Linked DNA regions of Homo sapiens: region 1 is linked to region 2. The links come from fine-mapping of genetic effects on gene expression. A gene starts in region 2. The other region holds a variant in brackets. All regions are shown on one strand. Distances are from middle to middle.

Region 1 (11,111 bases), 47 kb before region 2:
GATTGAGTAGGAATTTGAACATACATTTTAAAGTTCTCTTGGTGGTAGTGTTATTTTCCTTAAGCAAGTTTGAGTAAAGCTTTTGACACTTACAATTAGAAAACTCACATGTAGAGGTCTGTCCTTGAAGTCATGTATTCCAGAAGAATGCACCAGTAGAACCTAGAGGAAACTGACCCAGTCCAGTCAACAAATAACTGATTGGATCAAGGACTACTTTTCCATAGGGTACATTTGCTGGAGAAAAGGCTCCTGAGGGCTGAGAGGCACTTCTGAGTCCAGAAAGAGTCACTGAGCTTCTTGACACCAGGCACAGGTGAGCCTACATAAGCCAGAAAACAAGTTGCTCTCAGCCCAGCCAGCCCGAGTTGATGCTAAAATACCTGCAGGGATGTCCAGACCCTGGGAACAAGGGGTTACATGCTCTCCTGTACACAACCTGATATCAGAACACTGTGCTGTGATATTTACTTTCCTCCTTTAATAAGGGGCAGATAAGAGAGGCAGCTGCTAGGCCAAGCAAAGGACCCCTTTGTGGGTAAAACCCAGAGGTACCTGGACAGCGAATTTCTAGTCTTGAGTCCTGGGTTAGATGAAAAAATTGATCTCATCCTCGAATTAGTCTCTATTCTAGCTTTACTTGAGAAAGTTTTGACATTTCTGGAAAAGGCAAATGTGTTCATAGGGTAGCCATATGATTTATTACCCAGAGACACATTCGTGAGTTGAAGGGGACTCTTTCAATTGCCTCAGGATGCAGGTGTAAAAATAGTCTTAAGACGTATGGCCAACATTACTAGTCATCAGAGAGCATAGTCCTCTCCTCAAGAAATGTATTACATTACATTTTGAGATTTTCTCTAATTCAGGGAAATTAACTGGATTAGGAACAAACTCATTCCATTTTCTCCAATTTTAATTGCTGTGTTGTGATGTCTTGGGTGAGGGTTTGCATTGCAGGTTGGTTAAAGGACTAGATTTAGATTCCGGGTTCAAATCCTGGCTCAACCACTAAACAGCTGTGCCACTTTGGGGTAGTTACCTCTCTGTGTCTCAGTTTTCCCACCCGTAAAATAGGGCTAAGAAGAGTAGCTACCCCATTAAATTGCTGTGATAATTAAACTATAATGTAGGTTAAGTGACCAGCTTTGTGACTGATACATAATAAACTCTCATAATAAAATAATGTATTAAACATAAATATTATTTTTAATATTTAAACAATGCCATGTTGTCACTTGAGAGGCAGTTTGCTGAATAGTCAAATTCTTTCATTTGTTTACGTGGAGAGAAAGTGTGTTTTTCTTGGCTCGTTGATAATAGTTATTACTTTTATACCACCTAAGAACTAGGAGACTGCTCCTATTTTTAGAACTGTGATAGCTGAGATAACTCTCAGGCTAGATTTGACTTATAGATTGTATTCAAATAATTCAAATAAACATATTGTGCGATGACTAGTGTACAGCTTTTTCAATAACTGCTGGAGATGTGGCGGTCAATTTGAGAAAACAGGTCCTGACCTCTCATGGACATTATAATCAATAAAAGGTAGAAGAAAATAAAGCCACCACTGTAATACTCGTGTTTAAACAGAAGCCACCAATAAATGTGGCAAGTTTATTTAGCCATAGTAGATTCAAGTACCAGCTCTGGGGAATTCAGAGCTGTGGCCCCCAGGTTCCTCTGAGGTCACATCAACTCTCCAATTGGATGTTTATTTTTCAGGTCCACAGTGTCCAGGCATCCACAGCTCTCCTGCTAAGCCCCAGAGCACTGCATTCTTCCCAGGGCTGCTGGCTACTATTCTTAGTCACCAGCAATTTTGCTTTTATGTTCATTGCCTTGTGCATTTACAAAACACATGATTGTGAGTCAAAGCCAGGGAGACAGGCATGTTAGGGGAACTGGGGCCTGGAGCACTCAACCCAGTGATTAAACTCCTAGATCACACTGGTACATTATGAATTCCTTCTTTTAAATATAGACCAGTCTCATTTGATATGAAATGGACTGACTCAGGCTAGCAATGCTAAACAGGTCACCTAATTGTGGGGAAATGTGCAGCCTGAATACAAGATTCTGGACATTCCCAGAAAGGGAGATGAGGCTCTGAGCTTTTGCAACCTGAGGATAAAGGGAAACCTGAGAAGGCACTCTCATTTTGTGAATATCACAGTTTTTCTGAGAGTGTGTTGAATTTTTTTTAATGGCTTAGTACTGAGCATCTTGAATTATATAACTGGTCTTGTGGTAGATGTGAGATTTGTAGAATTTCTTAAAAGTCATGTTAAAACCTAATCATGGGGACACTAAAATGTATTTTAAATTCAGCATATGTGGCATTCCTCATTTAAATAATATTTTGCAATTTATGCCCAATTAATTTGCTAACAATATTTACTTTGTCCTGCTTTTTCCATCTGTGCCTCTCCTGATCCTTTTCACACATTGCCTTTTTTAAGGTGAATTTCTTGATATATTACATACATGCAGAAAAGTGTAAAACAGCTCAATGAATTTTCAGAGGGTGAACACACCTATTACTCAATCCCTAGATCAAGAAATAATATATTATTGGAACCCCAGAAGCCCCTTCCTTAACCTCTAACCACCAAAAGTTAGCTACTGTCCTAACTTCTAATACCACAATGTGTTTTTTAAAAATATTTTTGAACACAAATTGAATTATATATTGTACTGTCTTTTGTATCTAGTTTCTTTTGCTCAGTTTTTTTGGGTGAAATTCATTCATGTTGTGTAAACTCATAGTTTGTCCATTCTCATCACTGTAAGTCAAATGCATAAATATACCAAAATGTATTTGTTCATCATGCTACTGATAAGCATTTGTGGCTTTATAAATTCTGTTATGAACACACTTATTTGTGTCTTTTGGGAAACATACCTAAGAATGGAATTGTTTGGACATAATACATTTATAATACATATAGCTAGATATAAACACACATACACAATACATAAATAGGTATTACATGTACCACATATACATGATAACATATATGTACATTTCATTTCAACATATACATATACCCACTTTAGTAGGTACTGCTGAGGTTATCCAAAGTTATATCAATTTACACTCCTACCAACAGTGTAAAAAAGTTCTAGTTGTTCTATATCCTTGCTGTCACTTGGTATTGTCCTTTTCATTTGGGTTATTTTGGTGGGATCACATTTTCTTTTATAATGTATATATTTATCTCCATTCTACTTTACACTTCCTTCATTGCCAATAACTATTTCCCCTCCCAATTTGCACTAATGATTGCAACTTTTACATAGTTAGTAATTAATATATATCTAGTCACTAACAAAATGAAACAGGAAATCTAAAAGTAAAGTGTCAGTGGTTCATTTTTTTTTTTCTATGAGGAAAGTAGTCTTTTAATGGATTGAGAAAGTATTATTATTGGCTTTGGTAAAATTTAGGAACATGGAAATGAATCTGATGGCCATTGAAATTAAGAACATTTCCAAATTACACTTCTTAAAATTTGCCCAATGTAAACTTAATTAGAAAGAGTACAAGCACAACCCTTCAATTACTTCCATGAGTTACTAAGTCTGATTCTTACCAGGAACTTGGCTTTCTTTTGAAGATTTCAAAGTTACCAGCAATCACAACTCCCTTTCTTGGTGCTGCTATTTAACAGAGAGAGAAACTGATAAATAATGCAGAAGACACTGATTTCAGGCCATCACTATGAGAAGATAGAAGACCAAGGACCAGCATCTGGCTTCTGGGCTTCTAGATAAGACTGGACACTCAGTGATCTGGAATGAACAAAGTATGATTCCAACCAGTGGCCCTCTGGAGTTCCTTTTTATATATAAGGAATGGTGATGCCCATTGCAATCTCAGTATAATCCTATTTGTTACGAAGGAGACCTTCCCAATGCAGACATGGCTTCATTATTGTCCCTAACAGCTGGTGATGGAAGAATAAAGTAGACTTATTGTAAGGTATTTTGATTCACACACAATCCCTTATATATAACCTGAGAAATGAATACTAAGTGAGGTCCTGTGGCCAGCTTCAGCCTCTGCTGTCTGTTGGGTGTTGGTTAAGAGCTCATCCTCCACAATCAGGCAGATATGTCCACACTCCTACACTGCCATTGACTTCAATGGGATCTTTAACATGTCCCTTAACTTTTCTAAGCCTCATTTTTCTCATCAATAAAGTCATCATTCCTGCTACCAAGAGGTGCTGTGAAGATCAAATAAGATCATGTGTGTGGGTATGGCAAACTTGAATTGTCAACCAATTTCTTCTTTTATTCTCCCACCTCATCCTCATTCAAGCAGAGAAACATGGGGTCACCATTTGCTCTGGGACTGGGGTTCTTCAGAAATGGACCAATGAATAAAAATGACAATTTCTCATCTTCTGGTTCTATCTTGGACATGCAGGGATGTGGAGACAGAATGAATCCACTTTTATAGCCCACGTCTCCTAGAGCCCCAGAGTGTTGTGGAGATGAGGTACCCAAAGCTTCCCTATCTTCAGCAGGAAGTGAAAGCTAGTTGAGAAGGAAAGATGCATGGGCTTGCACAGGGTCCAGTTGTGGGGACAAGGAGCTCTGTGTCAGATGTCAGCTGTGTGGATGGACAGTTTCCACCGAGAATGATGGGAGGACAGACATTACTTTCCAAGGTTACCTAAGCCAGGAGTCAAATGGGGACAAATCCAAACTGGGAATTTGCTCAGTCTCCATTTGGAGTGTGTTGAAATCTGACTAAATGAATTTACACTGAGTGTAGGAGGCCAGCAGGGGCCCTGCCAGGTCCAGATGGAGAACCAGCTAGCCACTCCCT[A/G]CTGTCACCAGGTTGGCACCTCAGTAAGATCCTGGGCTTAGGATCTTTCCTGGGTAGAAAGGGGGAATAAATTGGAGAAGGTGAATATGATTACATTTTGTACCTGAGTGACTAACACATGCTGCATCGGACCTTTCCTGAGAGTGTGTAGATGATGTTCTGACCACTAGGTAGGTTGTAGGTTCAAATTATTTTATTAAAGAAACTAATGAAAATTATGTTTCTTGTGTACCCCAAGTGAGTGATGCTAAGAATTCATACCTATTACATGTGAGCAAATGCTTGGTACATGTGAATGGTCATTACTATTATCTGCAAGATCTAATTAACGTTCTGTCTCTTGTCACCTAAGAATTAAGTTGTAATTACAGTGGCTGTTCTGCCATACTATAAATAATTTCTACTAATACTATACTAGCAGAGAATTTTTCAGCTTCTAACCTGTTGGGAGAAGAGGATATAAATGCAGAAGGCTCACCAGATGGCCTCATTAAAAAACAACTCTGATTTTCATAAAGCATTCTTCACCATTCTCAACCTGAGTTAGTGTAACTGAGGCATTATGAGGGAAAAATGCCTTGAGAGAATCAGAAACTCTCAAAGAAAATTTTCTGATATGTTCATAGGAAAACATGTGCCTCTTGCTTGTGGTATTTGTTGTGCTCTCTCCTGAGGTCCGTGTAGAACAGTCAGTTACCCGTCACCATCTGGCCAGGCTAATTCTGGGTGGCTGCAGCTGCAACCCAGTGTCTGGTAATCACAGCTCCAGGTCCTCTCCATACTAAATAGCTAGCTCAACTTGCTGCCTGGTGAGCAGATTCCACTGCAGGCAGCTTCCCTTTCTAGTAGGAGATCCAGATTTCAAAGCACCAAAGAGGACTCTTGTAATTTATAAACCCAATACTATATATTTCCTTTCTCTCCTCTTAGTAGTCTATATTGGGCTTTCAAGACCACTCACCTGGACCACACATCTCACTGGATAAGTCGTCTTACATGGACTGGTGCAGTAGTCCCATAATTGGTCCCTCTGTTCTGATTTTCCATTCTATAATCTATCTTATGCTGATTCCAGATTAATCCTCCAAAAGCCCAAATCAAGCCATGTCACCTCCCAGCTCACAAACTTTCAGTGTTTCCCCGTTGGCTACAGGATAAATGCAAATTTCCTGGCTTAGCCTTCAAGGCTCTTTATTGTCTGATCCCAGTCTTGAGAAGCCATACATTGTAATGGTTAAGAGTTCAGGTTGAGGTCACTGATACTAGTTCAAAGCTCAGGTTCTCTGCTTTCTTAATATCTTTTCATCAAGGTGGCCACTCTTTCAGTTCACTCATCTTAAAATGAGATTAATAATACTTACACAACTGTTGTAGGGATTGAGTTAAATAAAAATAATTTGCCTAGTACCTTTGCACTGAAAATACTCATTAGACACAAGTGACAGTTACAATAATTGCAATTAAATTTTCAGCATCATTTTTCATTATTGGCCAATATTCCAGCTGCCATGCTTATTGAAGCAGTATACTATAGGTGGCTAAACATTAGGACTTTGTAATAAGACTGAGTTTAAATGCTGACTCTGCTACTTATTGTGCAAGTTGGGCAAGTTATTCATCATGCTGGGCTTCACTGTCCTTCTCAGTAAAATGGAAATAATAATAACTGCCTCATGGGAATGTTGTGAGTATTAAATGAGAGAATGCATGTGAAAAACAACAATTCTTGGAACAAAGTGCTAAGGAAAAGTAAATATAATTTCCTGTCCTATTATCACCTTATTTTAATATACTCTCTTTGAATGTACATTTTAAATTTTATTTGCATTTTTGCTTTTGTTTTTCTTTTCTTTGTCTATTCTAGAACCACCCTATAAACCTTACTCTTTTATTTGTAATTCTCCAGGTCCTACAGTCTTTGAACTCTGATCAAATGCTCAAGTGTTTCCTTCTCCAAAAGTCTTCCATCATGTCTCAGCAAAAAACAATGCCAAAAAAAAATTATTTGGGGAGTATAAAGAAGTACTTTCCAACACACCTGAGATTTTCTGGCCTGTGTATGTTTTATCTTATCAACTAAGTAATGAAGTTCAAGGATTTAATCTTCATATTAACTCCATAGTAGAAACTCAATAAATGCCTGTAGAATTGAATAAATTTCATCCAGTTTTCCCTCTCCCTTTTTGCCATAAGGCCCAGAAATTTAGGAATTAAAGCTGTGAAGTGGAAAGAAAGAAGGTTGGCTTTCCATTGGAAAGTGGATCAGTCCATAGCATTACCTTTGGCTCTTTCTTATTTCCTCTGGGGCCAGTTTTGAGTATTATGCCCTTATGAGAAAGGATTGTTGACTCAAAAGCGCTCAGTTGGGCAAGAAACAAACATCAAAAGCTCTTCCCCAGCAAACTCCACAGTCACTCTGCAGCTTGAGCCCTGCTATTTTCAATTTTACTGATGTGCTTAAACTAGTCCTGCTTTGTGCCTTTTCTGAATCTTGAAAAAGAGGCCTCTTGGGAGCTTAAAGTCTTATCTTCTACTCTTATCATGGCTGTGCCTACTGGAAGAAGCTCTCACTGGGCAACCCTCAATAAAAAGCCTCTCCCTGTCCCTTAAGAAAATGTCTAAGCAGGAGAAATGCCCTATAGCACAGAGAGCCCTTAGAGGCTGCTGCATTCTTGATTTTGTAGTCTCTTCCATAAAATTTTACTCTCAATGAGTGAGTGGGTCTTACATAAGAACTTACAAATTCCTTTGTATATGTTTACATTTGCCTCAATGATGAGGTTCTCAAAGGCAGAGGACTGAATGTCTTTGGCCCCACACAGACCTAAGCTCCAAAACTGGAAGGTCGAATGATTGTGAACAAGTGACTTTGTGTCTTTGTGCTTTAGTTTTTTGTTTGTAGAATGGGGACAGGACCACCTAAGTCACAGAATCATTGTGAGCATTAAAGACCTGAGACCTTTACATAAAAGCCTCCATATAATCAGAAATACTTTTAATTAATTTACATTTGTGAAGGCAGTATAGGCTAGTGGTCAAGCGTATACATTTTTGGTAGCAGGCCAACCTGGATTTAAGCCCTGACTTACTCACACTAAACTATGTGACTTCAGGAGAGCCATTCACCTTTGTGCCTTTGTTTCCTGATCTGTAAAGTGGAAATAACACCACTCCATGAACATCTATGGGAGATTAATAAGTTTGAGAAAGTAAAGTGCCTAGCACAGTACCTAGTCCACATGTGGCACTGAAATGTGTATGTCTTCCTCCTCTGTTTATATGCATTATTTCTCCAGTATCTACATTGTGCTTTACAAACTGTATGCTCATCACAAAAGTTGCAAATGAAAACTCTATATTCCTGTAGGCACTAATGCAGAACATTGCTGCACACCCTCCATCAGTGTTGGGTGTCATCCTATTCCTCCATCAGGAAGCTTTTCCTAACATTCTGGCCAAGCAGGGACATTTCAAGAGGCTGTTTCTCCTCACTTACTGTTGCAATAGACCTAATTGGGCTGGTAACAACAGTGGACTCCCTTGGTGACAGAAGAGTGGTAAACACCCAAGAGGAACAGTTACAATTTCAAACTTGTAAGAGCTGAGAACTGCTAATTTCCTGCCAGCAAGACTGACATGGCTGCTTTTTAGTTGACCTCTTCAAGGGAAACCTCAGAAGGCCCATTGGGAGCTTTATAATGTACGGTGCAAAGAGGCCCTGAACTGATTTTGTTCAAGGGGAATTTTATTTGTGTTTATATTGGCTACTCATGTGGAGAGGTGTTTGTAAACACACAGAGAACTTCTGTGCAAAGACATGAGGTTATAATTTCAGACTTTACTCCCTAAAGGAGGAACAGAGAGCATTATCTGTGTCTCTATGTGATATTGAATAATAAGCACCTGCTATGTACTAAGCAATGAATTGGGTATTCAGACTATAGAGAGAATAAAGTACAGACTCCATTTTTAAGGAACTGGCCAATTTACAGGGGATATTGACACACATGGTATTCTGTATTCAGGGGCTTAAAATTAATTGCTCTTTCTTCTGTGCCCACATATAACTTGACTTTCATAACCCGCATAATAACAGTAATCACATTATTCTATTCCAGAAATAGAGATCAGTTTTTATGGGAATATTTGACCCTCACAATTCTCAACAGAGCAAGAATAGAGAGAGAATAAAACATACTTTCTTCTTTGGACTTTTCTCCAGTATCCACATGTTCTACTATAAAAAATGTTTACTCTTATACTAAGATGATAAATAAAAAGTGCTATTGTAGTTAAAGGTCAGAAATGGACTAAGGCCCTTGAAGTCATATTTTGGCAAAATGAAAATGCTACAATAAAATATTGATATTTTCTAAAACTAAGTTTAAAAGTACGTAAGGTCCTCCCTTTATTTGAAAGAAATATCTTGGGGGTATAAACTAAAATTGTAGTCTAAATACTTAGGCTGCCCTAGGTTAAGAATGACATCCATGTCTAGCATGCTTATTCAAATGAATGCTCCTTGTTGTCCTTGATTTTTCTGGAATACATATTTTCTAGCACTGTTAAGGCTTCTGGCTTTCAAAAATTAATAGATTGACATAATCAAAGGCAGAGGAAAGAGAACAAGTTTTCGATGATAATTTATTTGAGATGGCAGTGTTTCTGAAAAACTGAGTAGTGTAACTTCATTTCACAGATAACTCAGAACATGAAGGCCACATAGTAAATCACAAAACTAAGATTAAAATTTGTATCTGCCCCTCAAAGTGGTGCCGTTTCCATGAATAAAGTCACTAAACAAATTAGGAATCACAGTTTCTGAAATGTACAAACGAACTGTTAGGGTCTGAGAGTTCTATTACCCCAATGAGTTAATAAAAGTTTATTCATTCACACAATCATTCATTAAATATTTTCAAACTTATTGCTATATGTCAGGTAATTTTCTAATTTCTGTGGACATAAGTGGGGGAACTAGAACTGGTCCCTGCCTTCCTGGTCTAGTTGCACACTGCAGAAGAAGTACTTGGATCTCAATATCAGGCTTTTTAATTTTTTACAAGGTGTGGCTTTACAATGTTCCACTAAAAAACTGAATATAGCTTTCTTCAGCTTGTTCTGCAAGTATCTACCAGAAGGAATAGGAATGTTTTCAAAAGATATGGTGGCCATAAAATGATTCTGTTCTTTCTATTTTACCTTTTTAAAGGACTAAGCCTCGTTATGCTGACTTCCCATTGATGCATCAACTTCATTTTAAGAAATTATAATCAGGAAATAGTGAAAATAAATGTAGGCCAGGCATGGTGGCTCATACCTATAATCCTAGCACTTGGGGATGCCAAGGCAGGAGGATCACTTGAGCCCAGGAGTTCTAGACCATCCTGGACAATAGAGTGAAACCCTGTCTTTACTAAAAACAGAAAAAATTAGCCAGGTATGGTGCTGCACATCTATAGTCCCACCTACTCTGGAGGCTGAGGCAGGAGAACTGCTTGAGCTCAGGAGTTTGAGGCCGCAGTGAACCATGATTATACCATTTCACTGCAGCCCGGGTGACAGGGCAAGACCCTGTCTCAATAAATGAATAAGAAAATAGATACATATCTAAATATGTTCACTATAGCCTCATTTATAAGACAGCAAAAGAAAAAGCAACCTCCATTCTTCATAATTAGAGACTGATTAAATAAAGAACAATACAACAACATGATATAGTACTTTCTAATTGGTAAAAATAATCTTTTAGACAATTTCTTTTTAAATTTTAGGATTATTTTTCCTGTCTCTGTGAGGAATGTCATTGGTATTTTGATAGGAATTGCATTGACTCTGTAGATTGTTTTAGGCAGTATGGGCATTTTAACAATTTTTTTTTCAATGCATGAACATGGACTATTTTTCCATTTTCTTATGTGTCCTCTTCAATTTCTTTCATCAATGTCTTACAGTTTTCATTGTAGATATCTTTAACTTTGTGAGTTAAGTTTATTCCTAGGTAGTTTATCTTATTAATATTAGTTGCTATTGTGAATGGGATTACTTTCTTGGTTTCTTTTTCAGATTGTTTGCTGTTAGCATGTAGAAATCCTAATGACTTTTGTAAGTTGATTTTGTGTCCTGCAACTTTACTGAAGACACAGAATAGCCAAAGCAATCCTAAGCAAAAAAACAAAGCTAGAGACATCACATTACCTGACTTCAAATTATAATACAAAGCTATAATAACCAAAATAGTCTGATATTGTCATAAAAACAGACACAT
Region 2 (8,000 bases):
TAGAAATTCACTATATGTTAAGCCATATTTTAATTAATATGTTCCAGAATTGCACAGCTTCCCTATGTTGGCTAGGCTGGTCTTGAACTCCTGGGCTCAAGCAATCCTCCCATCTCAGCCTCCCAAAGTGCTGAGATTATAGGCATGAGCCACCATCCCTGGCTAATTCATTCTTTTTGATGGCAATATAATATTTCATAACATGATGAATCATACTTTAATTATTTTCTTATAATGGACTTACTAGTTATTTCCAGTTCTTTTCACTACAGATGATGTTGCAATAAATATTCTTGAGAATATTGCTATTATCTGAATGTTTATGCCTCCCCCCAAGTTCACATGTTGAAATATAGTTCCCAAAGTGATGGTCTTAGGGGGTGGGGCCTTTGGGAGGTGATTAGCTCATAAATGTGGAGCCCTTGTGAATGGGATTAGTGTTCTTATAAGGGACAGACGAGATCAGAGTTCTTCCCTTCTGCTATGAGAAGACACAGCAAGAAGGCTCCATCTGTGAACCAGAAAGTAGGCCCTCACTAAACAACGAATCTGATGGCACCTTGATCTTAGACTTTCCAGTATTCAGAACTATGAGAAATAAATTTCTGTTGTGTATAAGCTATCCAGTTTATGGTGTTTTGTTATAGCAACCCCCAAAACTAAGATACATATATCTTTACATGCATGTTTATTTCTACAGCATGGGGAAATTGCAGCTTAAAGACACTGTCAAGTTTAAAGCTGCTCTCCATTGCTTTGTAAAACTTTCACAGAAACAGGATAAACTGGGATATTTTAAGTGCTCTGTCATTACCGGTTTACAATTTTTGCTGATTACTTGCTGTTTAACCAAGCGCTATGAAAGGAACCAGTGAGGGAAACAGAGACAAACAGAAGAAATGTTCTACCATCTATAAGAAATCACATTTCCTGTCATTGTCAATATCTCCTACAGAAAAAGATACCTCAGAGTGCCTCCTCAAGCCATTGTGTGCACACAAAATGTATGTTCTTTCCCTCTGTTCACTACTAGCTTTTTCAGCAACTAGTACTCTCTCCTCATGTCTCTAGCTCAGCTCTTTTAAAATGTAGGTCAACCAACTAACTTATCTAACTTTTAAAATTTGCTTTGTCCATTATTCATGTTCTTTTCCACAAATGAGAGTCTAATTACTGAGGTACAAGCAAAAAGCCCTTCCTCCTTCGAGCCTTAGAATCCTGGAAGAGAGAGGGGAAGGACTGCAAATAATTTAAATGTAGTAACTTAGTAACCTTTATTCTATTTCACTCTTTCTCTCACACACACACATCACCTGTGCACACACACACACACACACACCCCTCCCCCAAGGGGGGGAGCTATAAAACGGTATTTTGCAGTGTGATAAATTCTTATGAGTGAATGAATAAAAATCTAGTGGAAGTTCAAAGAACGAGGTGAATCATTCAGCTTGGGATAGAGGAAAGAGGAAGGAATAAATACGAGAAAAGTCTTCATTGAGGAGGTAACATTTAGTTGAGGTAAAAAACAAACATTTTTTTTTTTTTTAGGCTTGGAAGGTGAGGACATTCCATACAGTGTGAATAGAAATAGCAAGGGCACTGAGGTAAAAGGGGCTTTTGAGTTTTGGAGGGATCTGGTATAGCTTAGAGTGGTGGTTCTCCAATTATAACATGGATAAGAGTTACGCAGGGAGCTCATTTAAAATGCAGATTCATGGGCACCCATCTTATCAATATTTTGATTTGGTAGCCTGAAACCTGTAATTTGAACAAGTTCATCCAGATAACAAACACCTTTTTATATAGCAGTAGAGGCTGTGTGAGGAACAATGGCACAAAATCATGTTGCCACAGTATTGGTGTGTACACGAACTAATATTTCAGATAGGTGAGCGTGTGAGACAATAAGAGATTATGTCAGAAAATGATGTCAGCTCTTTGAACTTGGTTTTGAGAGATAATAGCTTGACAATGGAGCTATTATTTTCTTCCCTAAAGGCCACTACTTCACAGGAAATATTTATTGAATGGCTGAATGAATGAATGCGGGCAGAATTCTGAGAAAGCAAACTGAAAGTTTCCAGAACTGTGAGGATTGCTTGCTTGTTTAACTTGACTGTAAGGGAAACAGTTTCAGAATAGCCAGCTCTGAACCACTAATTCAAGCCTTCCAAAAGCTGTCCTGGTGTATGCAATATTGATATACGCATACATTTTCATTCAAGTCTACAAACAAGGTAAATGTAATTATCTTGTAGATCATCCGTGTAAACAATCATCACAGTTATGTAGCCACTGCCAGATATAAGCCCTTGGAGCTAAGATCTGGGAACAGAGAACAGGCTCTTACATAATTTCCCAGCTAGTCAGTGTTAGGGACTCTGATTAATGCTACATGACAGGCTTTGAACTTTCTATTCAGATAGGTTTGCTTGCCTTTTGGAGTTCCTAGCAAGACGAAACGTGTGACCTGCAGATTTCATTCTGAATAACCATCATCCAGCCAACAACACTGACATGGCTCTGTGGCCCTGTGGGTAACCGTTTCTGTGCCTCACTCCTCTGCCCATAGACAAATTGCAATAAGAGCGTCAGGGTGGTTTCACGGAAGTGGAATACAACTTCCTAAAGCCCAGTCGCTGAAGAAAGCCATGGCAAACAGGCTGGTGGGCTCTTCTGGGTATAATCAGAAAAGCCCTAGAGGAGTGGCCAGAGAAAAGAAACTATAGTAGGGAAGGAAGGAGTTCTGCTCTCTACCCGCCGCCGTTTATAACAGTCTGTAATAGCTTCGCAGCATCTTTCCCTCCCTGAAGCTCCCGCGGAGCAGTTGAACACGCGCTTCCAGCATCCCAGTCCCGCAGAGGAGCTGTCTCAGTTCTGACCAACTTTCTGAGCTTGGCCAAGTCTTCCCGGCTCCTCCGCTCAACTATGGGTCCCTCCACCCATCCCCTCATCCCCACGAAGGTCCAGGTGAGGGGCCAGAACCCAGCGGCAGCCCTTCCATGCGCCCCCCTCCCCTATCTCCCAAGGGGGAGGTTTCTTTCCACAGCCCCTGCGCGTCTGCAAGCGGTGAGGTGAGACGACACTTGTCTAAGCCCCTGCAAAAATGCGTCCACACTCCCGCCTCCAAGCAGGGTGCCTCGATTTTGTCCTCACCACCTTGGAACGGCATCTTAGGAGGGGGCAGGATTGAAATCCCCGGCTTGAGGGTTGAATCTCCGGCTTGGAGCAGAACTGAGCAGGGAGCACCCCATCCGACCTCTCCTCACCTGATAGCTGGCTGCCTGGCGCCCCTCCCTGCACACACACTGCTACTCACCAATTCCAGGGCTCGCAGGAAGGCAAGGGGCTCCTTCAGCACCCGGAAGGTGCCCGCAGAGGCCAGCTTTGGGGGAATGAGGCGAGAGAGAGAAAGCAAAGCGTGAGGAAGGGGCTGGGGGCGCCTCTCCCAAGCCGCGGCATCCCCCGCCCCCTGCTCCCAGCCAGCCGCCCTGCCCAGTTCTGTCTCACCTGACTCACAGGGTCCATAGCTCGCCCTCGCTCGCTCTTCTCATCCACCAGTTCTTTTTAAAAATGAAGTTCGCTTGGCACCACCGTCCTCAGGGCCAGAAGCCCCTTCGGGAGCAGCCAGAGGAGCGACACCCTGGAGCAGCCCGGCGAGGGCAGGGGGCCTCGGGGAGCCCACCCGCTAACGCTGGGCTCTGCGCTCCGGGAACCCAGCGCGTCGGGGAAGCGAAGCGAGTCAGCGAGGGGTGGGCAGGGAAGAGCTGGGGCAGGGTAGATACAACAGGGGAGGGGGAAACCCATGGAGCCAGGGGAAGGCTGTCATTGGCCAGCCGCGCTCCAGAGGGGAGGGCGAGGAGGTGGGCGAGGCAGGGCCCACAGACATTGGTGCAGGCTCAGCCGTGCGCCCGGTGCCCTCTGGCTCCGGGGAAACTTTGGGTCTGTTGGTTTGGGAAAGCGGGCTTGGCACCATCAGCAAGACGGCTGTCCACCTGAAGAAGGGGTTTCCAGGTAGGAGGAAGACACCCACACTTTACCTGAGACATCTGTGTGAGTTCTGATGACTTCCAAACAGCAAAATAATAATAATGATAAATACATAAAAATAAAAAAATAACTATTTGTTGGCTCTTTCATTCATTCCTTCAAGCCTTTATGGAGCATCCTTCCTGTGGGCAGGCAGTGCTTAGGTGCTGGGGTACATCAAAAAAACAGGATAAGCATTGTCACTTCCCCCAGGGGAAGCAAAAGGGGAAAAATAACTTGCAATGTGGTCTGGACAGTGGCGCAGAGCAGAGCACAGGGGCCATGGGCACAGGGCAGGGGATCCATCTTGGCCTGTGGATGCCAGAGAGAGGACCAGGACAGAGGAAACTGCCTGGAGAGAAGAGGTGGAAACAAATTAATCTTGAATGTGGGACCATGCGCCAGTGGAAAACAGATTTAGCAAGGATGAAATGGCCAAGGTAAAACATCTCATGAAAGGCTAAACAGGGAATGAAATTTAGGTACCTTTCAAACTCATTTTATTTCTACTGAGATCTTTTGCCTGATATCTGACCCCCAAATGAACTCCCTTGTCAAACTCATAAATATAACACTGGGTCCCTCCTCCAAAGTTAGACTGTTTTCTTGAAACTTAGTGAAAGGTGGTTCACGTTGTTTACTCTTAGTGGGCTAATCTTGCTGAATATAATAAAAACAACAACAACCAAACAAGTGAGTTCTTTCTATGAGCTGAAAACTGTGCTAAGGGCTTTACAAACATTACTTCATTCAATATTCACAAACCCCCATAAGTTAATAATAATATTATTCCCATTTTAGAGATGAGGAAATTGAGGCCCATGGAAGGATAGTGGCCTGCCCAAGGTTGCCCAGCTAGCAGGTAGTGAAGTCAGAATTGATTTTTTTAAAATCAGAAAAACAAAAGAAGAAGAAGGGGAAAAAAGGAAGAGGAGGAAGAAGAAGAAGGAGAGGAGAGCTCTTAGCTACTACATCAAGTAGTGATATGTCCTCTTCCTTCTCACTCCCTTTGGACTGGATTCCATTTATGAGTGGTCTCCCAGCAACACAGATAGTCCATCTGTTTACTATAAAGATTTGCCAAAAAGGTTTGGAGTTCATGGGTGTGTATGTGTGTGTTGGTGGGGGGGGTGGGTATTTGATATGTAGAAGTAGATGAGAAATACGGAAATCAGTAATTTGCTGTCTGGGAGGGGGAGGCAGCTTCTAGTGTAAATGCCCCCTGCTCATGAATTTTGCTGCAGAAAAACTAGAAATTTAGAGAGTAGGAACTCCAGTGGACTGGTTGCACCATCTGCAGTCAGCCAGTTTTGTTCCTACTGCTCTTCCTACATGCAGATAGAGCCTAAAACAATTAGAAACAGTTGTTTCAAAAATAAGCCATTATGCAACTATGGGGGAGGGGTGGGGGGAACTAACACTATCAATTACTTAGTGTGTACCCTACCATGTATGTATATGATCTTATGGGGGAAGTTACTTAACCTCTTCAAGACCTCAGTTTGTTTCTTTGTTTTAATCTGTAAAATGGAGCCAAAATACCTATCTTAACTGTTTTTTGTGAGAACCCAATGAGATTTTGCAGATAGCCCATCTAGGGCAGTCTGCATTTCATAAGCCCTCAGCATGTATTAGTTACATATCACTTCTATAGAAGCAAAGGGGAAGACTCAGAGGTCCATATCAGAGGCAGGGTAGATTGTAGCAATGTCCTGCTGCCCTCAACAGTGCACCTCAACATCTATATATCCTTGCCCTTTTGGACCCAGCAGTAGCCATGTGTCTTGTTTTGACCAGTAAAATGTGGGCATTTTATTGGTAATGTGTGCATTTCTGGGCAGAAGTTTTAAGAACCACCAAGTGATTTGCCAACTTATTTCCTTCTACCACGATGAATATAATTTCTATATAGAGGTTACTCTGACAGCTTGGGTCCCAGTGTAAGGATGACATAGGCAGATCTGCAACCAGACCTTGATGGACATGAAGCTGAGCAAACAAAAAATGCATTTTGGGGTGTAAGCAACTGAAAAATTTAGGTCTTTTGTTACTGCAGCACAACATAACCTAAGCCGACTGATAACACAGCTAGTAAAGTAGCCGAACCAAAATTTCACCCTAGGTTCGTATGATCTCATGGTCCTTGTGTTCATCCTCTTTGCATGGTAGTCAACCAGCTTACAGGGTATGACATCTCCTCCATATGCTTAATAACGATAATTATTATTGTAATACCTATTACCAGTTTAGTTCCTGCTACCTGCCAGGCATTGTGCTAAGTGCTTTATATACATCATTTAAGTATCATAATAATTTCCCCTTTTCTAGATAGTATATCCAGCCTTAGAATGGCTATGTAACATGCCTAAGGTCATCTACATATTTATATCTCTTTATACAGGGAAAGAGACTTATTTAAAATATTGCCTACTTGCAGATTATTTGAATTGAAAACTTGGCACAGAGGAAGTGTGATTACTGAGCCTATTCCCTCAGGGCTCTCTTCACACCCAGTGTTCCTTCTGACTAATATGGTGGCATATTTTTTTCCAGTTCTCCAAACACCATGTGAAGGAAGTCAGAATTGTGGCAAATGGCAGTGTAATAGCTTAGACAACAATTGCACATTGTCAGAGGATGCTTTTCCTATTCCAGAAATGTATGAGCTTCCAACAGCTGCATCACCAAAATAACCCAGAGTTTCATATCACATTTGCAATGTTAAATATTTTGTAGACTTTGGGTTAGAACCTCTGTATTCAGACCTGGAAATAACATTGGGTTCCCTAAAGAACTAGATTAGGGGAGATAGGACAGATGATATAAACACTGCCACAATATTACTATCAGTGGTTAAGGGTGACCCATTATCTTTTGCCCCAAGATGATGAAAGATAATTTCCCTCTTACTATGATGAATCTATCATGATAGATGAAGGATAAAGTTAACTTTGGTGGGGCATAAATGATCCATTTTAGTGGCCAGTGTTGATTATGTAAATCAAATAATTTCCAAATTCTCTTTTGTTTTGAGCCAGGGACCCATAGCTATGAATACTTCCTTTGATATGCCAAGGCAATCCATTTATTTACTGCAGTCCTCTGGTTCTCAATAGAGGGTGATTTGGGCCCTTCCCGCCACTGGAAAACATGTAACAATGTTTGGAGACATTTTGATTGTCACAACGAGGTGGGGGCAGGGGATGGAGATGACACTACTGGCTTCCAGAGGGCAGAAGCAAGAGATGCTGCTCAATATCCTACAATTCAGAGGACAGTTACTCAAAACAAAGAATTATCTGGAAAATGTCAATGGTGCCAAGGTAGAGAAACTTCAGCAAGTAAGGGCTGAGTGCCTATTGTGCCCTGGTACTGTTCTAGATACTGTAAACAGCTTGCCAAGTTTCCTGTCTTCCCAAAGCTTACACTGTAGTAAGAAATACATTCAGCCCAATTTAGTAAAGCTCAACATTTGCTAAATCAGCAAATGAGAATCAAGTTACAAACCAACCATTTTGAATCTCAAAGAGGGTTAATCTTGAGTCAAACTATACAAACCAAAGTACCAATCTGCAATAGAAGAACTTGCATTATTCAGGCAAATTAAATCTTGTTCTCATAGGAAAATATACCTTGTTCGCAAATGAAAATCAAGTAACAAAACCAAGCATTTTGAATCTCAAAGAGGGTTAATCTTGAGTCAAACTATACAAACCAAACTACCAAGCTGCAATAGAAGAACTTGCATTATTCAGGCTAATTAAATCTTGTTCTCATAGGAAAATATACCTGGGTTTCATATTCCCATGTCTTTTGTGACAAAGACAAAAAACTAATTTAAAACTTTATCTGCAGCAACTTAATACAGGAGGAAACACTACCCGTATGTTATGAAATCTAAAATAATGGAAATGAGTGGAAGTCTGTCAAAATGTTGTATATTTAACTCTCTGCTCATGCTGCTAACC

What was found. PIP is the estimated chance that this variant, and not a neighbour inherited with it, causes the effect.
Region 1: its variant is fine-mapped to the expression of SYNPR in cerebellar hemisphere (GTEx, PIP above 0.99). The same link has a PIP of 0.9 or more in cerebellum.

What each region holds. Positions count from the first base shown.
Region 1 is chr3:63,319,281-63,330,391 of GRCh38, reverse strand. The region is part of intron 2 of SYNPR (synaptoporin); the gene reads right to left. Among named protein-coding and RNA genes, the nearest start is that of SYNPR, 47 kb to the right of the region's middle. The variant A/G (reference allele first, on the strand shown) is at 4,844.
Region 2 is chr3:63,274,065-63,282,064 of GRCh38, reverse strand. It overlaps SYNPR (synaptoporin), which reads right to left and starts at 3,757. Exons shown (of 6, transcript NM_001130003.2): 1 at 3,514-3,757; 2 at 3,323-3,388. The coding sequence starts at 3,531.